Linked DNA regions of Homo sapiens: regions 1 and 2 are each linked to region 3. Evidence: fine-mapped expression QTL. A gene starts in region 3. Each other region holds a variant in brackets. All regions are shown on one strand. Distances are between the middles of the regions.

The links. PIP is the estimated chance that this variant, and not a neighbour inherited with it, causes the effect.
Region 1: its variant is fine-mapped to the expression of B4GALT5 in whole blood (TOPMed, PIP above 0.99).
Region 2: its variant is fine-mapped to the expression of B4GALT5 in whole blood (TOPMed, PIP 0.90).

The regions. Positions count from the first base shown.
Region 1 is chr20:49,781,617-49,789,797 of GRCh38, reverse strand. No RefSeq gene overlaps it. Among named protein-coding and RNA genes, the nearest start is that of SLC9A8, 27 kb to the left of the region's middle. RefSeq lists enhancers at 3,876-4,115, 5,642-6,165. The variant C/T (reference allele first, on the strand shown) is at 3,768.
Region 2 is chr20:49,622,347-49,630,527 of GRCh38, reverse strand. LOC124904926 (a long non-coding RNA gene) reads left to right here. Exons shown (of 2, transcript XR_007067638.1): 2 at 1-744. Among named protein-coding and RNA genes, the nearest start is that of PTGIS, 58 kb to the right of the region's middle. RefSeq lists an enhancer at 3,236-3,305. The variant G/A (reference allele first, on the strand shown) is at 3,881.
Region 3 is chr20:49,710,711-49,718,869 of GRCh38, reverse strand. It overlaps B4GALT5 (beta-1,4-galactosyltransferase 5), which reads left to right and starts at 4,992. Exons shown (of 9, transcript NM_004776.4): 1 at 4,992-5,294. The coding sequence starts at 5,180. RefSeq lists silencers at 4,780-5,109, 5,400-5,519.

The DNA.
Region 1 (8,181 bases), 71 kb before region 3:
GCGTATATGAGAGCAAAGCCCTCAGGCTGCAAAGATAGGCGTGGAAATTTGAAGCCATCCACTCACTGTGGGTCAAAAGGATGAATGCCAAGGGGATATGGACACAGAAGCCACGTCATCTGCTACAGTGACTTAAGTCCAAAGAGGAACCATATTGAGGATGGGCGCGGTGGCTCATGCCTGTAATCCCAGCACTTTGGGAGACCAAGACAGGTGGATCACTTGAGGTCAGGAGTTCAAGACCAGCCCGGCCAACATGACAAAATCCTGTTTCTACTAAAAATTCAAAAAAGTTAGCTGGGCGTGGTGATACGTGCCCATAGTCCCAGCTACTCAGGAGGCTGAAGCAGGAGAATTGCTTGAACCCGGGAGGTGGAGGTTGCAGTGAGCTGAGATGGTGCCACTGCACTCTAGCCTGGGTGACAGCGAGACTCCATTTCAAAAACAAAAAACAAAAAAACAACAAAGAGGAACCATATTGACTCATGGAGAATAACATGTTCAGGAATATGTGGCTGCCTTCAGGTACAGCTGGATTCAGGGGTTCATAAGTTATCAGGGCTCAGTCTTTCACTCTCACAATGGTGGCTACCTTTGAGCTTCAGACCCTCTTCATACCAGCCTAGCGCAGCAGAAGCAAAACAATCCCAGCAAAAACCTGAGGGATAACTCACTGGTCCACTTGGGGCAGGTGCCCATTTCTGAGCCAATCCCTATGGGCAGAGAAATGAGGGGTGCTGATTGGCCAGCATGGAGCATTGGCCTTCCTGGAACCAAGGATAAAGTTAGTGCTGCATGCCTTTCACATGGACAGGGAGTAAAGAAGGGGGCTCCCAGAGAAATTAGGATGCTGTTATGATAGGGGAATTCATAGTGAGTAGACAAAACCAAAAGGATAGATGTAATCTAAATCCCCACTCTGCAGACAAGGAACTACTACCTTAAAAATATACAATAAAATATTTTTTATTATCTATCCCTAGGTAAGGGAAGGGCCTTGTCCCAGCTCATTCAGTTAGCAGCACCCAGCTTCCTGTCTTCACCTGGTGTCTTTTCTTCTGGAGCAGGTGGTCTCCCAATAAACAGGGTTTGTTTACCCAACACAAACACATTAGTGTCCTTCCTGTCCTAGCTTCTTCTCCCAATCCACACTCAAGGTGACTCTACTACATATATTCCTGTTTTTTGTTTTTAAGAGACAGGGTTATGCTCTATTGCCCAGGCTGGAGTGCAGTGATGTGAAGAAGCTGGGACTACAGGCATATACCACCACACCCAGCTGATTTTTTTTTTTAAACTTTCTGTAGAGTTAGGGGTCTCACTATATTGCCCAGGCTGGTCTCAAACTCCTGGCTTCAATCAATCCTCCCGCCTTGGCCTCCCAAAGTGCTGGGATTACTGGCATGAACCACCCACTGTGTCTGTCTACTTCCTGCTTTTGTTAAATTAAAAAAAAAAGAACATATTTATTTATATATATATATATATATATATATATAGACAGAGAGAGAGAGAGATGAGACAGATATAGCTATAGATAGATAGATAGATAGATAGATAGATAGATAGATAGATGTATACACATATGTTGAGATGGGGTCTTGCTCTGTCATCCAGGCTGCAGCACAATGGCGCAATCAAGGCTCACTGCAGCCTCAACCTCTCAGGCTTAAGTAATCCTCCCACCTCAGCCTCCTGAGTAGCTGGGGCTACAGGCACACGCCACCATGCCCAGCTAATTTTTTTAAAAAATTGTTTTGTAAAGGCAGGGGTCTCATTGTGTGGCCCAGGCTGGTCTCGAACTCCTGGCCTCAAGTGATCCTCTCACCTCAGCCACACCTGGCTTAAATAAATATTTAAATCCCTATTTTCAAGACAGAGAAACTGAGAGTTTAAACAAATGATGTAATGCTGGGGTTGACATGAGCCATGTGGGCATGTCGGGGAACAGTTCTTCACTGGCTATAAGTTAGTCATGTGGCTACCCCTAGCTGCAAGGAAGGCTGAGATAGGTAGTAAAGCCATGGGAAGCCATGTGCCAAGCTAAAAATCAGGTATACTCTTACTAGGAGAGAGAAGACAAGAACACAAATTAAGGGATCATTTGCAATCTTTGACCAAAACAACTGACTCTGAGATGATCCATAAAAGGTAACTGCTATTGTTGTCTCTTTTTTGAAAAACTCAGAAGGTATATTTGTTTTTGTTTGTTTGTTTCTGTTGAGACAGAATCTTGCTCTGTCACCCAGGCTGGAGTACAGTGGTGCAATCTCGGCTCACTGCAACCTCTGCCTCCGGGGTTTAAGCAATTCTCCTGTTTCAGCCTCCCAAGTAACTGGGATTACAGGCGTGTGCCACCACACCCGGCTAATTTTTGTAGTTTTAATAGAAACGGGGTTTCACCATATTGGCCAGGCTAGTCTTGAACTCCTGACCTCAACTGATCCACCCACCTCGGCCTCCCACAGTGCTGGGATTACAGTCATGAGCCACCCTGCAGGGCCTCAGAAGGTATATTTGAAAGATGCGCATAAATGCTGGGTACTGATATCGTTCTGCACTGGACTTTGGAATCAACAAAATAGAGTTTAAATTTTTATTTCATGCCTTCCTGGGCTGTATGACGTTAGGAAAGTTCCTTAACCTCTCTGAACCCTGCTTTCATCATTTGCTAAGCAAGGATAATGGTATATTACTCATCAACGGCTGGGAAAATCAAATAAGACAATGGACATAAAGTTGAAGTATAGTATTCAGTCCAAAGAGGGTGTTCAATACATGGTCATTTTATTGATAAGGAGTGTATGCTGGGTTAGAACATGAGCTTGGAGATCAGAGAGACCTGGCTTTAAATACAGACCTTCACTTCCTGGCTGAGCAAATTATTTAACCTCTCTGTGCCTCAGCCTCCCAATATTTGAAATGGAAGCAGTAACAGTTCCAGCCCACTGGGTGGCTGAAGCATGAAAGAATGGATGGCACATTTTATTTTATATTTTATTTTATTTTATTTTATTTTATTTTATTTTTTGAGAGATGGAGTCACCCTCTGTCATCCAGGCTGGAGTGCAGTGGCACGATCTCTGCTCACTGCAACCCCTGCCTCCCAGGTTCAAGCGATTCTCCTTCCTCAGCCTCCCAAGTAGCTGGGATTACAAGTGCCCACCACCATGCCCAGCTAATTTTTGTACTTTTAGTAGAGATGGGGTTTCACCATGTTGGCCAGGCTAGTCTCGAAATCCTGACTTCAAGTGATCCACCCGCCTCGGCCTCCAAAATGCCCGGCCAGATGGCACATTTAAACCAGTCAAGCAAGTATGCTTTCGCTTTATTTTGTGTTATTATTAGGTTCCTTTTTCTCTTTGAGGGCATGGAGGAAGAGACAGGGTCAAAAGGCTGTTGCTACAAACATACAAAGTTTGTAGTAAGTAAGTCTTACACAAAAGAATACGTGTTATGTGCTGCCATTTCATCAAGTTCAAAAAACGGCAAAAATCATCACTGCTGTTGGAATCAGGATAACGGTTATCGCTTAGGATGGGAAAGACTTGAAGGGAGCTTCTCCGGGGCGGGGAATGTTCTGTTCCTTGAGCTGGGGGCTGGTTACCCCGCTGTCTGCCTTTGTGAAAATGTATCGAGCCATCGCTCCCCTGTGCACTTTCCTTATTTGTGCACTTTTCTGTATGTCTGTTACACTTCAATAAAAAAGTTTTCCCCCAAAAGTCTCTGTGGTCTGTTGGAAGCTGGCAATGGCCAAGGGGCTGAGG[C/T]GCACAGGTGGGGACCCTTCCTTGCTAGCCACCGCAGTTTCTGTTTCAGCTTGAGGTACAGCAATCAACTTCCTCTTCAGATGCATGACTTGCTGCTGACCTCTAGAACCTCTGGCCACAAGGCTCCTCTTGCCCCTGTAATGTGGCCTGATTCCATTCCTTCATCTGGGTCCAGTCTGGTGCCAGCCAGCCTGACTGTCCATATTATCAGACGCCAGGACTGTGGGACAGACTTGTTTAGAAGGATATTTTGATCAGTAGCCTTGGGTGGCAGCTTCAGATCAACCTCATATTGAACTTACAAGGAGGGTTGGTGCTGTCTGTTCTTTCTTTTTTTTTTTTTTGAGACAGAGTTTCACTCTTGTTGCCCAGGCTGGAGCGCAATGGCACGATCTTGGCTCACCGCAACATCTGCCTCCCGAGTTCAAGCGATTCTCCTGTCTCAGCTTCCCAAGCTGGGATTACAGGCATGCGCCACCACGCCTGGATAATTTTCTATTTTCAGTAGAGACAGGGTTCCTCCATGTTAGTCAGGCTGGTCTTGAACTCCCAACCTCAGATGATCCGCCCACCTCGGCCTCCCAAAGTGCTGGGATTGCAGGTGTGAGCCACCGCGCCTTGCCTGTTCTTTTATTCATTAATTCAAACGACAAGTTGTAGACACCTAACATGTACATGGTTCATGGTTTGTACAAGGATACTTCATTCATGCATGCATGGATTCATTCATTCATTCATTCACATACCTGCTAGGCACTGTGCTAGGTGCTGGGAACGCATCTGTGTAGAAAACAGACAAGGTCCCTGCACTCCTGGAGCTGATTCATTAGTAGAGGGAAACGGAAAATAAATAAATAAATTGCCCAGCATGATGGTTCACTTATAATCCCAGCACTTTGGGAGGCTGAGGCGGGTGGATCGCTGGAACCCAGGAGTTTGAGATGAGCCTGGTCAGCATGGCGAAACCCCTTCTGTACAAAAAATACAAAAATTAGCCAGGTGTGATGATGTGCACTTGTGGTACCAGCTACTTGGGAGGCTAAGGTGAGAGGATTGCTTGAGTCCAGGAGACAGAGGTTACAATGAACCATGATCACACTACTGCACTCCAGCCTGGGCAACAGAGTGAGACCCTGTCTCAAAAAAATAAAAATAAACAAGTAAATGCACAGTATGTTAGATGGTATGAGTGCTACGGAGAAAATTTAAGCAGAGACACGGACAGTGAGTGCAAGACGTGTTTGGGGGCAGGTTGCAATTTTTAATAGAGTGTTCAGAAAATGACTTCCTGAGAAGATGGCATTTAAGCAAAGACTTGAGGAAGCCAAGGGAGTTGGCCATTTGAATGTATGAGGGAGGGCTGGGTGTGGTGGCTCACACCTGTAATCCTAGCCGTTTGGGAGGCTGAGGTGGAAGGAATGCTTGAGGCCAGGAGTTTGAGATGAGCCTGGGCAATATAGTGAGACTCCCATCTCTACAAAACAATAAATAAATTATTTATTTATTTATTATTTAATATATTTCATTATTTAATATATATATTATATATAAATATATATACATATATTATTTAATATTATATATAAATATATATATATTTAATATAATAAATAAATAAATTAGCCAAGCTCGTGGCACACACCTGTAATGTCAGCTACTCAGGAGGCTTAGGTGACAGAACCAGAACCTGTCTAAAAAAAAAAAAAACAGTATGTGAGGAAAGCCTGAGAAGGAGCAACCATCATTAAAACAATATTGACAGGCCAGGTGTGGCGGCTCACGCCTGTAATGCCAACACTTCGGAGGCCGAGATGGGCAGATCACTTGAGGTCAGGAGTTCAAACCCAGCCTGGCCAACATGTCAAAATCCCATTTCTACTAAAAATATAAAAATTAGTGGCTGGGTGCGGTGGCTCACACCTGTAATCCCAGCACTTTGGGAGGCTGAGGCAGGTGGATCACCTGAGATCAGGAGATCGAGACCAGCCTGGCCAACATGGTGAAACCCCATCTCTAGTAATAATACAAAAATTAGCTGGGCGTGGTGGCACATACCTGTAATCCCAGCTACTCGGGAGGCTAAGGCAGGAGAATCACTTGAACTCAGAAGGTGGAGGTTGCAGTGAGCTGAGATGATGCCACTGCACTCCAGCCTGGGAGACTGAGCAAAACTCTTGTCTCCAAAAAAATTAGCTGGTCATGATGACGGGCGTCTGTAATCCCAGCTACTTGGGAGGCTGAGACACGTGAATCACTTGAACCCTGAGGGCAGAGTTTGCAGTGAGCTGAGATCTCACCACTGCACTCCAGCCTGGGCGATAGAGCGAGGCTCCGTCTCAAAAAATAAAAATAAAAAATAAAAAAGACAGTATGGCTTTCTCCATTTGGATGCTTGCCCTTCCATCCCAGCTGCCATAGTTGGAAAGAAGCTCAGGATACGTAGAGAGGCTGTGTGTGGGGCCTCAGCCAAGCCCCAGCCAGCAGCCTGCATTAGCTGCCAGACAGTGAGACTTCAGGTAACTCTCGCTTCTAGCCTTTGAGTTTTCCAGCTGAGGCCTCAGTGCTGGCATTACAGGAGTGAGCCTTAGAGCAGATAGAATTTTTCCCCACTATGCCCTTCCTGAATTCCTATCCTACAGAAATTTGGGGTACTCTGTTAAACAAACCCCAAATGAGGAACATTCTATGAAATAACTGGCCTGTATTCTTCAAAAAATGTCAAGGTCATAAAAGACAAAGAAAAGCAGAGGCATCATTTCAGATGAGAGACAATTAGGCCAGGCGCGGTGACTCAAGCCTGTAATCCCAGCACTTTGGGAGGCTGAGGTGGGTGGATCACTTGAGGTCAGGAGTTTGTGACCAGCCTGATCAACAAGGCGAAATCCCATCTCTACTAAAAATACAAAAATTAGCAGGGCGTGGTGGCAGGCGCCTGCAGTCCTAGCTACTCGGGAGGCTGCGACAGGAGAATTGCTTGAACCCAGGAGGTGGAGGTTGCAGTGAGCCAGGATTGTGCCACTGCACTCCAGCCTGGGTGACGGAGCAAGACTCCGTCTCAAGAAAAAAAAAATAAAAAAGACAGACAAAACATGGTCCTGAAGTGGATCCTGCACTAGGCGGGAAAAAGCTGTAAGGGATTCTTTTTTTTTTTTTTTTTTTTTTTACCACAACTGACAAAATTGGCGTATGGATGGTAATCAAGGTAAATTTTTTAGTAACACTGCTGTGATTACAGAAAATAATATCTATTTTCTTTTATGTTATTTTTGAGACAGAGTCTCACTCTGTTGCCCAGGCTGGAGTGCAGTGGTGCAGTCTCAGCTCACTGCAACCTCTACCTCCTGAGTTCAAGCGATTCTCTTGCCTCAGCCTCCCAAGTAGCTGGGGTTACAGGTGTGCACCACCACACCCGGCTAGTTTTGTATTTTTAGTAGAGACAGGGTTTCGCCATGTTGGTCAGGCTGGTCTCAAACTCCTGACCTCAGGTGATCCACCCGCCTCAGCCTCCCAAAGTGCTGGGATCACAGGAGTGAGCCACTGCACCCAGCCTATAGCAAATAATATCTTGTTCTTAGGAAATACATGCTGAAATATTATGAGGTAAATGGGGCATCAAGGTAAATTTTCTGAATTTGGTAACAGTGCTGTGGTTACAGCAAATAATATCGTGTTCCTAGTAAACATATGCGGAAATATTAAGAGGTAAATGCGGCATGATGTATGAAAACTATAATAGTTCAGAAAAATAATAATAATAAACATAGTCACATGAAGAAAGAAAAGATAATAAAACAAACATGGCAAAATAGTAAAGACAGGTGATTCTGGGTAAAGGGTATATGGAATTCTCTGAATTATTCTTGTTATAGTCCTATAAATTCAAAACCGTTTTGAAACCTGTAATCCTGATTATATCTCTGAAAGGGAAGTGGGTGGGTAAAGGAACAGGGAGGAAGGGAGACCCACCCATTTTTCACTCTTTACTTTCACTCTGTACTTTTTGAAGGTATTCATGTAGTCAAATAAACAAGTAAAAAAAAGGGAAAATAAAAGTTCACTTATTAGACACAGATTCTAGGCACTGTGCTGAGCCAGTCAATACTTGAGATGATTCTCATTTATTCCCCTCTACTCTGCCCATTGCATGGAGGAGGAAACTGAGGCTTAGAGAAAGAAAGTGATTTGCCCAAGGCAGAACCCAGAGCCAGAAATTAACCCAGGTCAGTCCACTACAAAGGCCTCAACACTCAGTTGGGCAGGGTCTTTGCCTTTAAGGAGAGATTCCTTGAAACCCTCTTCACTGTTTAAAGAAAAAATAACAGGCTGGGCGCGGTGGCTCACGCCTGTAATCCCAGCACTTTGGGAGGCCGAGGAGGGCAGATCATGAGGTCAGGAGATTGAGACCATCCTGGCT
Region 2 (8,181 bases), 88 kb after region 3:
ATTTTTTAGTTTTTTTGAGACGGAGTCTCTGTCACCCAGGCTGGAGTACAGTGGCACGATTGTAGCTCACCACAGCCTCAACCTCCTGGGCTCAAGTGATCCTCCCGCCTCAGCCTCCTAAGTAGCTGGGACTACAAGCCCACACCACCACGCTCAGCTAATTTTTATAATTTTTGTATTTCTTGTAGAGATGGGGTTTCACCATGTTGTCCAGATTGGTCTCGAACTCCTGGGCTCCAGCCGTCCTTTTGCCTTGGCCTCCCAAAGTGCTGGGATTCCAGGTGTGAGCCACCATGTCCAGCCATTGGCTGATGTCCAGATCTATACCTGTATACCTATATGCATGCTTAGGAAAACAAAGGCATAGTTTAAAAACCATAAGTTGTCCTGTAATTACTTTTGTTTTGTTTTGTTTTTTCTTAATGTTTCTGGAGACCTCTTTTCCGTGAATGAAGAGCTCCCTCAAATAAAGCCCAGATGTTACCTCCTTGGAGAAGATTTGATGAGCACCCAGTCTGAAATGCCACCTCCCTGTCCCTGTCCCCCCTTACCCTGTTTTATTGATTCACAATATTCTCACTCTGAATCGTACTATATTTTTATTGTTCTTTGTTCATTGGCTGTCAACCCCACTAAAATATAATCCCCATGAAGGCAGAGACTGTTTTGTTTTCTGCTCTATCCCCAGAGCTAAGAACTGGTCTTAGCACATAGTAGTTGCTCAATAAATATTTGTTGCATGAATGACTGAACCTATCTTATTATTTGAATTGTGACACATGGTAATCTCTTGTGTGGATGTATGTAATTTAGCCATTCCCCTCCTAATGGACATGGAGGTAGTTTCCAGTTTTCCACTATCACATTATATGCACCACAGTGAACACAGATGCACATCAATCCATGTGCACATATATGTGTAGGCCAACTTGAGAGAGTCAAGAAATGAAATTGTTGGAGCAAGGGATACACACCCACACCCACACACACACACACACACATATATATGCACACATGCACACACAAATACATACATATATTTATTTGTTTATGATATAAGGTCTCACTCCGTCACCCCAGGCTGGAGTGCAGTGGTGCGATCATGGGTCACTGCAGCCTCAACCTCCCGGGCTCAAGCTATCTTCCCAACTCAGCTTCCTGAGTAGCTGAGACCACAGGCACACACACCACACCTGGCTAATTAGTGTATTTTTTGTAGAGACAGGGTCTTACTATGTTACCCACACTGGTCTCAAATTCCTGGGATCAAGTGATCCACCCGCCTTGTCCTCCCAAAGTGTTGGGATTACAGGCGTCAGCCATCACGCCCCACCTGCACATTTTAAATGTTGAAGGAGCCTACCAAGTTGTCCTACAAAAAGGCAGTATGAATTAATCCTTCTACCATCAGTGAATGATCATGCTATTTATATCTTTAACCCCTGGAATTAAAGGGGATTTTGTGTATGATATGGTCAGGAGGGGCGGTCTATAATTTATTTTTTCCAAATGGATTGCTAATTGTCTCAACAGTATTTATTGAACAATCAATAATTTCCCCATGTCTTACACATTAAATTCTGTAGCAAGATTCTTCCATTTCATTGAGCTATTTGTCTTATTATGCCTTACAGTTTTAATTATGATAGCCCTGTAGTATGTTTTTATAAGACAAGTTTATCTCTACTTTCTATATCCTACCCCAAATTTTGTAAACATTTATAGAAGTGTAATATACATACAGAAAAGTCCATAAATCCAAAGCAAACAGCTCTTTTGTCAGGGTGAACATACTTACACAACCCCATTCTCATCAAAATTTTCAGCCAGGCATAGGCAGGAGGGTCACTTGAGGCCAGGAGTTCAAGACCAGCCTGGGCAACATAGTGAAACCCTGTCTCTACAAAAATTTAAGAAAAAATTAGCCAGGTGCAGTGGTGTGTGCCTGTAGTCCCAGCTACCGACGAGGCTGAGGCTGGAGGATCACTTGAGCCCAGGAGAGTGAGGCTACAGTGAGCCATGATTGCACCATTGCACTCCAGCCTGGGTGACACAGAATGAGACTCTGACTCAAAAAAATTGTTTTTCTTGGCTATGTTTATGTATTTTCTCAATCCGGTGAGATTTATTTTGTCAAGTTATATTTAAAAATCTATTTAAGGGCCAGGCATGGTGGCTCATGCCTGTAATCCCAGTACTTTGGAGGCCAAGGCAGGAGGATCACTTGAAGCCAGGAGTTTGAGACCAGCCTGGGCAACAAAGAGACCCTGTCTCTATATTTTAAAAAATTGCTTTTTAAAATCTAGGATCATGACTGACATTGCACTAAATTAATGATCTGGGAAGACAGCATCTTTAGCATCTTTACAGTATTAAGCTTTACCTCTAGACTTACCAAATTCTTTTGCTGAGGTCAGGCGCTGTGGCTCACGCCTGTAATCCCAGCACTTTGGGCGGATCACCTGAGGTCAGGAGTTTGAGACCAGCCTGGCCAACATGGAGAAACCCCGTCTCTACTAAAAATACACAAAAAAATAGCCAGGCATGGCGGCAGGCGCCTGCAATCCCAGCTACTTGGGAGGCTGAGGCAGGAGAATCACTTGAACCCGGGAGGTGGAGGTTGCAGTGAGCTGAGATAGTGCCATTGCACTCCAGCCTGGGCAACGAGAGCGAGACTCTGTCTAAAAAAAAAAAAATGCTAGTTTCCTCCTAACCTGGTACCCTCGATGCCACAGTACCTTGCAGGTGGGCTGTTCTTAATAAATACAGTCACTGAGTAACAATTCAGATTTACCATCACATGCAAACTAGCTGTAAGGGCAAACGGTTAAGGAGGATTTATGCCGCTTGTGAAATGCAACCTGCTAGATGCTGGCAGAAAACTTTCCAGGCAGGCTACATGCCATGAGACTCCTTGAGGAAGCACAGCCCTGAGTACTTTTCTCACTGCTCCAAGACACACCTTTTCTCTGCCACCACGCCCGCCCCACACAGCACCCTGCTACGACTAGATGTGGGACTGACAAATGCCACTGTTTGACTTATTTCTAGGACAATGGTGGGTGGCAGTCATGTAGGAGAGAGGTCTCTGCTGTGTAGGGAGGCTCGGAGGTAAGGAATAGGTGGGAGTAGGGTATACATCTTCCACTGTGAATTCTAGGAAGAGCAGGGCCCAGGAGAGATGATCTGCTGGTTGCACTTCTACAGCCAACAACTCCATGGCCTGGGGAAGTCACTTCACTTCCCTGCAACTTCATTTCCTTGCAGTCAGATGGAGAGACAGCACTTTGGGAGGCTGAAGCAGGTGGATCATTTGAGGTCAGGAGTTCGAGACCAGCCTGACCAACATGGGGAAACCCCTTCTCTACTAAAAATACAAACATTAGCTGTACGTGGTGGCACATGCCTGTAATCTCAGCTCACTCAGGAGGCTGAGGCAGGAGAATCGCTTGAACCCTTGAGGCAGAGGTTGCAGTGAGCCGAGATCGCACCACTGCACTCCAGCCTGGGTGACAGAGCAAGACCCTGTCTCAAAAAAAAAAAAAAAAAAAAAAGCCAAGAGGACAGGGCTCAGAGAGCTTCCAGATAGCTGAACACACGGAGGTTTGTAAGAAGGTGAACAAGAACTCATCCACGTGCTGGGAGGGTGGCATGGGGACAGGCTCAGGACCCTTCCAGACCTCACTGTGTGTGTCTCATCTGGCTGTTTAACTGCGTCCTTTAAAAGAACCTTTGTCATAAACCAGTAGACGTAAAAGTAAGTTTGCCTGAGTTCTGTGAGCTGCTTTAGCAAATAAATTAAACCCAAAGAGCGGGTTTGGAGCTGATCGGTCAGAAGTTCTGGAAGCCTGGACTTGTGACTGGTGGGAAGGAGGGGACA[G/A]TCTTGGGGACTGAGCCCTCAACCTGTGTGACCCGAGGCTATCTTCAGGTAGACAGCATCGGAGTGGAATTGGGGGATGCCCCGCTGGTGTCCACTGCTTGGTGCTTGGGGAAAAACAGACACACATTTGGTCATGGAGATGTTCTGTGGCCAGGTGCACTGGCTCACACCTATAATCCCAGCACTTTGGGAGGCTGAGGTGGGCAGATCACCTGAGATCAGGAGTTCGAGACCAGCCTGGCCAACATGGTGAAAACCCATATTGACTGAAAATACAAAAATTAGCCAGGCGTGGTGGTGGGTGCCTGTAATCCCAGCTACTCTGGCGGCTGAGGTGGGAGAATCACTTGAACCCGGAGGCGGAGGTTGCAGTGAGCTGAGATTGTGCCACTGCACTCCAGCCTGGGTGATAGAGTGAGACTATGTCTCAAAAAAAAAGTCTTTAGTGTTGATTGCTGTAGTGTGAGAGCAGAGGAAAAACAGTTGTTTTTTCCACCGTCACAGGGGCTGTATGCAGTCTCTGTCACTCAGCTATTCAACTTCTCAATTCTGCCCTCATAGCTCAAGCAGCCCCAGACAATATGTAAACAAACAGGCTTGGCTGCATTCCAATAAAACTTTATTTACAAAAACAGGTGGGTGGCCGTAATTTGCCAACCCCCGAGTTTGGCTGAAAATCAATAGAAATGTGAACGGTGACGGAGGATTACGAACAGGGAGGCAAACCAGGGGAAAAATAACAATGTGTCCTGGCTAGTTCATCGCTATGTAACACATAATAGCAATAACATGGAAGGAAATCAAACCCCCTGAGGACACAAGAGTGGCTAAACAAGCCAGGCTCTGTCAACACAGAGGAAAAGGAAGTGCCACAAAGTGACAGATTACACAGGAACAAGAAATGGCAGGGCTGTGAGTGAAGACTGCAAGTGAAGAAAGGACACACCACAAGAAGGACGCGCTCATTACAACAGAACCCTGGGCTGGGCGGCACGGTGGCTCACGCCTGTAATCCCAGCACTTTGAGATTCCGAGGTGGGAGGATCGCTTGAAGCCAGGAGTTCAAGACCAACTTGGGCAACATGGCAAGGCCCTGTCTCTACAAATATATATATATAAAATTAGCTGGGCATGATGGTGTTACGTTTGTACTTCCAACTATTCGGGAGGCTGAGGTGGGAGGATCCACCACTGCACTCTAGCCTAGGCAACAGAGTGACACCCTGTCTCAAAAACAAATAAATTTTACATTCCTTGGTCCTCGGACATGGCTAAAGAGATCTAGGGCAATAGAGACACTACATTTTTGTGTCTGTCAATCCGCCTGATGACAGAAATAGAATAGAGTCTGGGTGCAGAGGGTCATGCACGTAATCCCAGCACTTTGGGAGACTGAGGCAGAGGATCACCTGAGGTTGGGAGGTCGAGACCAGCCTGGCCAACATGGTGAAATCCCGTCTTTACTAAAAACACAAAAATTAGCTAGGTGTGGTGGCGGGCACCTCTAACCCCAGCTACTCAGGAGGCTGAGGCAGGAGAATCGCTTGAACCCGAGAGGTGGAGGTTGCAGTGAGCTGAGATCGCGACACTGCACTCCATCCTGAGCAACAGAGTGAGACTCCATCTCAAAAAAAGAAAAAAAGAAAAAAGAAAAGAAACAGAATAGAAGTAAAACAGTTTAGTACTGAAATGAACTGTTGAGAATCTTAGCTGCCCCGTCCCTCTCTAACATCATATATACTGTGAAGTGCTGTTTTCGTCTTGTTTTGTTTTGTTTGTCTTTTCTTTGTCTTTCTTCCCAACTGGGACAGGGGACAAAGGACGCTGTTTTGCTCCCTGTTCCATCTCCAGCACCTAGTCCAGAATTCGGCATACTGCAGGACAGAAGGCAAGGGGCAGATGCTCAAATATTTGCTGAGTAAATGACAATGAACCTTCTCAATCTGAAGATTCCAGATGTAGGAAGAGCCAGACACCCCCAGGCTGAACCCACTCAGAAGCTGGGTGCTCTTGGTAAAGTCACATTTCTCTTATACTGTTTTCTCATTTGGAGAAGGGAGGTGGTAAAACTTTCCACATGAAGTTATTGTGAAGAGGAAATGCAGCAACATATGTGAGTTACCAAGAACAATGCTTCACACACGACAGGTGGTCGGTCAATGGAAGCTTTCATCATGGCAGCTTCACTGCAAAGCACCGTCTATAAATCTAAAGTACTCTTGCTATTTTTGTTGTCTGTTTTTTTTTGTTTGTTTGTTTTGTTTTGTTTTTAATGAGACAAACTCTTGCTCTGTTGCCCAGGCTGGAGTACAGTGTCGCGATCTCGGCTCACTGCAGGCTCAATTTCCTGGTCTCAAGTGATCCTCCTACTTCAGCCTCCCGAGTAGCTGGGACTACAGGCATGCGCCATCACACCTGGCTAATTTTTAAGTTATTTGTAGAGACGAGGTCTCCCTATGTTGCCCAGGCTGGTCTTGAACTCCTGACCTCAAGTGAGCCCCTTGCCTCAGTCTCCCAAAGTGCTGAGATTACAGGCATGAGCCACCACATCCAATCCTAAAGCCTTAACGCCTTTTTCTTTCTTTCTTTTCTTTTTCTTTTTTTTTTTTTTTTTTTTTTTTTGAGACAGAGTCTCGCTCTGTCACCCGGACTGGAGTGCAATGGCGCGATCTCGGCTCACTGCAACCTCCACCTTCCAGGTTCAAGCGATTCTCCTGCCTCAGCCTCCTGAGTAGCTGGGATTACAAGCGCGCACCACCATGCCTGGCTAATTTTTGTATTTTTTTTTTAGTAGAGACAGGGTTTCACCATGTTGGCTAGGCTGGTCTCGAACTTCTGACCACATGATTCACCCACCTCGACCTCTCGAAGTGCTGGGATTACAGGCGTGAGCCACTGCGCCTGGCCAAAGCCTTGTTCTTAAGACCGACCTACAAGAGAAGTAACTGGGAGCCAAGATTGCCAACCTTGCTGGTGGCAAGGCCACTAACATTCCTGTTGACAGAATAATCAGTGGAACCAAATACAAAGTAATAAACCACATATTAAGATTTGTTTGCCTATCATTGAGAAATTTTTCTTTTTTCACACTTTTTGGTTTTAGATCCACTGACTAATAAAAATATAGCTGCAGTGTCATAAGTTGGTCACAGCTGGAATGTATAGTCCAGATTTCTCTCAGCAAAATAATTTTTTTTTTTTTTGAGATGAAGTCTTGCTCTGTCATCCAGGCTGGAGTGCAGTGGTGCAATCTTGGCTCACTGCCACCTCTGCCTCCCAGATTCAAGTGATTCTCCTGCCTCAGCCTTCCGAATAGCTGGGATTAAAGGTGCACACCACCACACCTGGCTGATTTTTGTACTTTTAGTAGAGATGGGGTTTTGAACTCCTGACCGCAGGTGATCTGCCTGCCTTGGCCTCCCAAAGTGCTGGGATTACAGGCGTGAGCCACTGCACCCGGCGGAACTAGCATTTGAGTTGGTGTCAGGAGCTGCCTGTCAGGCCTGGGGTGTCCCAGTGGTCAGTGACAGCATCAAGGCCGCTGCAGATATAAATACAACATAAGTAAAGACAATGGGTTTATTAGGGTAAAGTGGCTTCAAGAAAAGCCTCCTATCCCAGGTGGCCATAGAAACTCTTTTTTTTTTTTCCTTTTTGAGACGGAGTCTCGCTCTGTTGCCCAGGCTGGAGTACAATGGTGCTATCTCACCTCACTGCAACCTCTGCCTCCCAGGTTCAAGTGAGTCTCCTGCTTCAGCCTCCTGAGTAGCTGGGATTACAGGTGTGCACCACCATGCCTGGCTAATTTTTGCATTTTTACTAGAGATGAGGTTTCACCACGTTGGCCAAGCTGGTCTCGAAATCCTGATCTCAAGTGATCCACCTGCCTTGGCCTCCCAAAGTGCTGGGATTACAGGCATGAGCCACCACACCTGGCATAAATCTGTAGCCACTGTTTATTGTGCTCGCTTTACAGATGAGGAAACATGCTCAGCAAGGAAACTCTGGTCTAGTGAGAGTTTGTAAATGGCAAAGTGAAGTTGCAAAGTAGAGATGTTTCCAAGCCACATTCTCATTTCATAATCCAATAAAATTCAGAATAAATTATCAAAAGCAACCTCAAAATTTTAACTTCTTGAAAAATAGCTATTATTTCTAAATGGCCCCTGAATCAGAGGAAAATCAGAACCAACATGGAAACTTATCTAGAGTCTTAAAAAGCAGACACTGTTCATACCAAAGTGTGTGAGACATAGCTAATGCTGCCTACAGAGGAAAATGTATAGCCTTAAAGACGTCTA
Region 3 (8,159 bases):
GGGAAGGATGCACCGGCTTTTTTTATTTTTATTTTTTTTCTTGAGACGGAGTTTTGTTCTTTATTGCCCAGGCTGGAGTCCAGTGGCACGATCTCAGCTCACTACAACCTCCGCCTCCTGGGTTCAAGTGATTCTCCTGTCTCAGTCTCCCGAGTAGCTGGGATTACAGGTGCCCACCACCACACCTGGCTAATTTTTGTATTTTTAGTAGAGACGGGGTTTCACCATGTTGGCCAGGCTGGTCTCAAACTCTTGACCTCAGGTGACCTGCCCATCTCAGCCTTCCAAAGTGCTGGGATTACAGGCATGAGCCACCATGCCCTGCCGGATTGTTTTCTTTATGTGTGTGATTTCAGCTAGCCTGCAATTGGGTGTTGACAAGCACAAGAGGCCCAACCTGTGCTCTCCTGAGATTTCACCAAGGACCTCCCTTTCTTTAGGCCACTCCCCTGCGCTAAAACCTTCAAGGGCTCTCTATGGCTCAGAGGAAAAAGTTAAGAATAGTGATGGCTCCCATGGATTGAGCACTTCCTACATATCAGGCCCTTTATAGAGATACTATTTGTAATCTGTGCACAATCCTAGAAAGAAGGAACTGTCTGATCTCCATTTTACAGATGCGGAAATGGAGGTTCCGAGAGGTGAAGTGACTTGCCAAGATGACAGAGTGAGGGCAGGGAGGAAGGAAGACTGGCAGCCAGATCCATCTAATTCCAGGGCCCATGCTGAGCCACAGGGTCAGGCCTCACTCCTCCAGCCTCACCCCTCACCTCTTTCTTTTCCTTGGCAGGACTAGCTGCTCCAACCAGGCAGGCCTCTTCTCACTGCCCCTTGAGCAAACCTGTCTCAATGTCCCTTCAAAGACCATCTAGAATCTCACAGAACACCTTTTCCTACTGCCAGCCATGCTGAGTCCTGCCCTTATGACAGTGTCCCTCAGTTAGTCACTTTCCTGTAGCTCATATGTCACTAGGCTGCAAGAATGTCTTAGTCATCTTTGCATCTGCCATGCCCAGCACACAGTCACTGCACACCTGTCGTCCTTCAACAATTATTCAGCGCCTACTGGCTGCTGAGCACTGTGCTAGGTGCAAGGATACAGCAGAGAGTGAAACCAAATCCCTGCTCTCGTGAAGTTTACATTCTGATCTGGGAGAAGAAAATGAACAAGTAAACGCGTATATGTATAGTAGAATGTCAGGGGATAAAAAGTGCTATGGAGAAAAATCAAGCTGAGGAAGGCTATGGATAGAGAGTGCTGGGATGGGGAGAAGAAAGCTACTTTAGAGGAAAGGTCTTTTTGAGACGGTAACATTTGAGCAGAGATTAGAATACAGTGAGTTTGTCTGAGGAGCTGAATAGTCAAATGAATATATAATGAATACATGCTTTAGTGAGTTGGAAACCTAACTTGGAGATGAAAAAGTAGTGTGGAGGAAGGAGTTTGAGGTAGGGATCCCTGGATACTCCTGACATACTTCTTTTTCTTCCATTTAAAAACATAAACTGCCGGAGGCGGTGGCTCATGCCTGTAATCCCAGCACTTTGGGAGGTCGAGGCAGGCAGATTACCTGAGGTCAGGAGTTCGAGACCAGTCTGACCAACATGGTGAAACCCTGTCTCTACTAAAAATGCAAAATTAGCCGGGCATGGTGGCGTATGCCTGTAATCCCAGCTACTTGGGAGGCTGAGGCAGGAGAATCTCTTGAACCTGGAAGGCGAAGGTTGCGGTGAGCAGACAATGTGCCATTGCACTGCAGCCTGGGCAACAAGAGCGAAACTCCACTGAAACAAACAAACAGACAAAAACCATAACCAGTTTATTTATTTATTTTTGAGACGGAGTCTTGCTCTGTCGCCCAGGCTGGAGTGCAGTGGTATGATCTCAGCTCATTGCAACCTCCACCTCCAGAGTTCAAGCGATTCTTGTGCCTCAGCCTCCCAAATAGCTGGGATTACAGGCTGCCTGACACCGTGCCTGGCTAATTTTTGTATTTTGCATTTTTTTTTTGAGGTGGAGTCTCACTCTGTTGTCCAGGCTGGAGTGCAATGGCACGATTTTGGCTCACTGCAACCTCTGCCTCTGCCTCCCAGGTTCAAGCAATCCTCCTGCCTCAGCCTCCCGAGTAGCTGGGATTACAGGCACGTGCCACCACGCCCAGCTAATTTTTGTATGTTTTAGTAGAGATGGGGTTTCATGTTGTTGGCCAGGCTGGTCTCAAACTCTTCACCTCAAGTGATCTGCCTGCCTCGGCCTCCCAAAGTGGTGGGGTTACAGGCGTGAGCCACTGTACCCGGCCTAAAACATAACCAATTTATTTTGATGCCTTGTTATTTCAGATAGGTCAGAAATAGAGACTGATCATTGGTACATAGTTTAAATGTAGGAAGGTTTCTCTTTCTCTGTCTATCCAGAACAGACTGGATGTTACAGAATGTTATGGTATAATTGTTAATTCTCTTAGTATTACTGTGGTTTTGAAGGATAATGTAATTTTCCTTAGGATTTGCTACTGAAGTATTAAGGCATGAAGTACTAGTAAGGCAACAACTTACTTTTTTTTATTGTTTTTTTGAGTCAGGGTCTCACTCTGTCTCCCAGGCTGGAGTGCAGTGGCGCTATCTTGGCTCACTGCAACCTCCACCTCCTGGGCTTAAGAGATCCTCCCACCTCAGCCTCCCAAGTAGCTGGGACTATAGGCACACGTCATCACGCCCAGCTAATTCTTTTGTATTTTTTGTGGAAATGGAGTTTTGCCATGTTGGCCAGACTGATCTCAAACTCCTGAGCTCAAGCGATCCATCTGCCTTTGCCTCCCAAAGTGCTGGGATTACAGGTGTAATCGCCCAGCCTACCTTTAAATATTTAGCAAAAAATAAAAATTTTCAACATATGAATATAGATACATACATGTGGAAAAATGATAACAATGATCAAATCCAGGTGGGGAGTGTACAGATGTTTCTTGTACTATTCTTTCAACTTTTCTGTATGTTTGAAAATGTTTCATAGATACGAGGGTTGGGAGGGGCCATTGTGTGGGCCAACAAAAACTATTTGCAAGTTAGATGATTCCGGCTAGTCTGGGATTTCTGGTCCAGGGCCTTACCTGCACTATTTCATCGAATCCACATCACATCCCCGTGGGGTGGGCAGCACTGGGTCCGATTCACAGGTGATGAATAGAGAAGCTCAGAGAGGTAAGTGACTTTCCCAGAGTCACACAGCCAGGAGATGCCAAGCCGAGATTTGAACTCACATCTATCTGAGTCAAAATTCTCTGCTTTCCTTTTTGATCGTTTAAGCCTCTTCTCTTCCACCATACCATTCTCCAGGGGTATTGAATTAGGTGACAGCTAAGCACTCTTACTATGTGCACTTTGCATGTATTACTTAAATCCTCGCAACAACCTGATGAGGTTGCTAATAACCTCCTCCATTTTACCGAGGCACAGAGAGTTTAACTTGCGTGAGGTCACACAGCTAACAATGGAAAAGCTGGGAGTCAGAGAACCTGGGCAGTGTGGCTCTAGACTCCCCACTTAAAGGATCAAAGAAACACTGTAAAAAGTAGAAATCACTTTAGGAATATAAATCAGAATTATTGTTGATTCTCACAGAATCCCTGCAAAGTCCTCTCCCCTCCCCACTGCTTCTGGCATTCCAAGACAGTACCCTAGTTTCAGATATGTCTACACAGGGACACTGGCCTCCTCAGTCCAGCTCCTTGAGGCTACTGCTTCTTGCCATAAATTTCTAGGACTGTTCATTGCCTTCTGAGGTCCTTTGAGCTGATGCTGATCTGAAAGCATTTTTTTGGATATGGTCCCATACCCAGGTGATGGGGATAGGATACCGATTTGCCTGCAGGATAAGAATTAGAGGTCATACAGACTGCTGAGACAGTTACAACCTAGAGGTCAAGGGCCTGACATGGGAGACAGGCCAGTTTTGATTTAAGCCCTTACTGCAAGGCTTGGGTGAATTGCCTTTCCATCTAGAAACCTCAGTTTCCTCATTTGTATGATAGTAATAATAACAGCACACATCTCAAGACTGGTGGGGGAATTTCATGGCATGAGTGAAGTCCATGTTTCTCAGCAGAAGTCTAGAGACATTGACAATTGTTATCATTATGCTATTTCTGATACAGTAGGATCCCTGACTACAGCTCCAAGCTCATCCCTATTTCCCCCCCTACTTCACTGGATTTTATCCATGTTGGCCTTGGATTCAACTCGGGGGCAGATCAGCCCTTTTCCTACCTCAGGGCCTTTACACCTGCTGTTCCCCCTGGTATGACTGCTTTTTCCCCAGCTTATTCAAAAAAGCTGGCGCTTTCTCACCCTTTTATATCTCAGTTCGTGTCACTGCTCAGTGAGGCCTTCCTTGACCACTCCAGCCTGCCTGCAATACATCCTCCTGTTTTATCGTATTCATATGTGTTACCAGTACCTGATATTACTAGCTGATTTGTTTCTTTTATCTCTCACATAATGTAAGTTTCAAGTAGACAGAGATTTTTATCGTTTTTTTTCTCTGTAGCATGCCCAGCGCCAACAACTGTGTCTGGCATTCAATAAATAAATGGTGAATTGAATGAATGAATGAATGAATGAATGAGGGTGTATACCAGGCCGAACCCCCAAGCCTTGCAGTCCCCACTCTTCTGCTGCAGTGGGCAACGAGATGAGTCAGACTTTGTAGATGGCCCCTTGGCCCCCGAGATGGGGGACGAGCTAGCGCGGAGCACTTGGGAGACATTCCCCGAAAGCCTGGGCGGTGGCCGCACTGGGAGAGGGTCTGTCGCCATTTGGCGATTACTCCATGCGGGCTGCTGTGGGCGCCGAGCGAGGGTCGGCGGCGAGCGCAAGCGCGCGGGTCTTTTGCGACGGTGCCCGGCGGCACTGGCCCCGCCTCCCGCGCGTGCGCCCCGCCTCCGCCCCCGCCGCTGCGCCCGCTCGGGGCCGCTCTGGCCCCCGCCCGCTTCATGTGGCCCGGCCCGCGACGGCCGGCGGCTGGGAGCGGCGAGGCGGCGGCGGCGGCGAGTGGCGGCCCGCGAGGCCCGGGAGGCGGTGGCCGAGGCCCAGGCGGTGGCGGCGGCGGCCCAGGAGGCGGCGGACGGGGAGCTGCGGGAGCAGGCCCGGCCTGGCTCTCTAGCGGCCGCCTGGCTGCAGCATGCGCGCCCGCCGGGGGCTGCTGCGGCTGCCGCGCCGCTCGCTGCTCGCCGCGCTCTTCTTCTTTTCTCTCTCGTCCTCGCTGCTGTACTTCGTCTATGTGGCGCCCGGCATAGGTAGGAAGGGGGCTTGGGACCGCGGCGGCTGCCGCTCTGGCCTTGAGGGACCCGGGGAATCCCCGCCCCTCCCTAAGGGGCCCCGGCCGGGAGGCGGCCCTGAGCCTGGTCCTCCGAAGACTCCGGAGTCCTGGCCCGGCTCTCGGGGACGCCAGGACATTCCTGCCCTCCGCACCCCAACAGGCGCCCGGGATCCCTCTCCCGCGCCAGCCTCCGGCCCACCCCGCCCCTCCTAACGCCACCCTCGCGAACCCGACTGTACCTTCACGCCCGCCCCTTGCTCCGGAACCCCCTTCCCGCTCTTGCCTCGCTGGAACTCCCACTTCCCGCTCCTCTGCTCGAGAACTCCCGCTTCCCCTTCCCTTCCCCGGGGTCTCCTCGAACCCCCATTCCCGGCATTCCCCGCACCCCAGTCCCCCGCGGCGCGCCCGCTCTTCGCCGAGCCCATGTGCCCGGGTCCCAGGCCGCCCCACCTTCTAGCTCCCATCCATCCTCCCCCACTCCCCATGACTCCATCGTTTCCTGCTCCCGTGAGCCCCCTCCCTCCCCTTTCTTCCTCTACTTCCCCTATTACATCCACCTCCAGGTCCTCCTCCCTAACTCACGTTCACCTCTTCAGTGGCCTGATCTCTCTGCCTGCCGGTGGCACCCCCCTTCCCCTTACAGAGGTCCACCCCCATTCAATCTCCTGCTAATCCCCTGAGCGTCCCATGCCTCTTCCCCATCTCCCCCCCCCCCACCTCGCGTACCCACAAGGGCACATCCTTGTCACCTTTGCCCCCAGCCCCCCAGACTTTCAGCCACAGCTTCTTTCTCAACTGAAGACCTGGGGAAGGGGTGCTGTCTGTGTTCTTTCTTCCACTTCTGCCCTCTCCTAGCCTTGAGGGTAGATGGTGTGGTTCTTCAGTATTGGATAGTGCCTGCTCTGCGGACAAAGGAGAAGTTTAAATTGTCCGTAGAGAAGGGGATATGATTGGGGCCTTTGGGAAATGGTACCAGGTGAGAAGGGGGAGCATGGAGGAAAGATGTAATGGGTACTCCTTCTTTTCAAAGTCTTATCCTTTAAAGGAAAGGCGGTCTCTGGAGAAACTGACCCTCCCACCCCTCCCCCGCCTGCCCCAAGCATAGTCTTTTATAAGACCACAGGGCACCAGTTAGGACAGGAAGAGATCAGAAGGAAAGACAGCATGAAGGTTAAGAGCGGAGGACACAGAGGTCAGACTTGGATTCCAATCTCTGCCCTGTATGACCTTGGGCAGGTTACTAAGCCTTTGCATTTCTCCTCTGTAAAATGGGAATGTGAGTCCCAATCTCATACAGTGTTAAGGATGGAAGTAGATACATGTTCTTTAAAAGCACTTACCACTGTACCTGGTGCTTGAAGAGTTTTAAAAATAAGTAAATAAAGGCAGCTATTACATGTAACTTCCAGGAAGAAGGGAGTTAGGTGGAACGCTTAAGGAATGTGTTTGCCTGACTTGGCATCACTATGAGGAAACCTCAGTTTATGGTGAAAAATGATCAGAAGATGCTGCTGGGGTAGGGGCAGGGAGAGTAAATTCTGCTAGAAAAATTTTGGATTATATGGATTTTAGGAAAGGGTTGATGGTTTAGCTGTAGGGAAATGCCTTTTAGGATTGTAGCAATAACTAGTGCCATTCTCTGTTGACCTGTCAACGCAGAACTAGCTGAATAGAGAAATTTCCAGATAGAGCAGGAGATCGTCTCCTGATTATTTTTTAAGCATATTTTACTTGTGGTTAATGTTGATGTTTTGAACTATCAACTAGATCTGGGAAGATAGAACAGGCAGCATCAGATTGCCTTGTTTACAAAGTGTCATCACGAAAAGTGTTCCTCTAGGAAGGCATAATATGTGGCCTGATGGATTTGATGAGTAGATTGTAAAAGGGTTGGGATTCTGGCAGAACAAGAAGAGATAACTAATTAGTGGAATTAACTGAGAAAAGAGTTCATTAGCATGTTGGCTATTAGACTCTAATAAAAATGGGTGTGAAAAGATGGGATTTGGACCTAGAGGCAGTCTTAGAGCCATAATCCTTTTTTTCTCCTTTTGTGAAAGTGACAGGTACTTCTGGTCTGAGTCCATAAATCAGCTATATCTAAATGGAAAACTATATCCCACTGGGATGGTAATCACCCTTTTGATAGAAAGGTTAGAAGCCAGATTCTTCAACAGAAATGGAACTTATCAATTTAATTAAGATTCCTCAACAGTAGATTTTTAGGTCAGTGGAACCCCTGTGTAAAGCGATGTGCTACTGCCATGCCTAGAATCCTATATCACTGATAGCTGAAAAAGAGGCAGAGCACTTACATTTTCATTAGTACTGTATCCCCTTGAATGTAAGCCTTCTGAAGGGGAATTCTACTTAGGATGGAAATTTTGTTCGTGAGAAAGGGGAACAATAAAAAAAGGATGTGGAGTAGTTACATTTAGCTGTTTGCCCTTCCTACTAATTTTTTTTTTTTTTTTTTGATAGAGAGTCTCTGTTGCCCAGGCTGTCGTGCAGTGATGCTCATAGCTTACTGCAGCCTTGATCTCCTGGGCACAAGGGATCCTCCTCCCTCAGCCTCCTGAGTAGCTGGGACTCCAGGTACATGCCACCCTGCCTGGCTAACTTTTAAAACAGTTTTTTGTAGAGACAGGATCTCACTATGATGCACAGGCTCTGTTGAACTTAAATTTTTAGAATGTCTAGCTTTGGACAGTGGGGCGGCAAATTTTTTCAAGGTTAAGGCAATCTGGAGAAATAGAAGGTTGTTTTGTGTTCCTTGGGTTATGAAGACCTTATTTGAATAGTTATTAAAATGAGCTTAGAAAATAATACTAGGTTGGCTGGG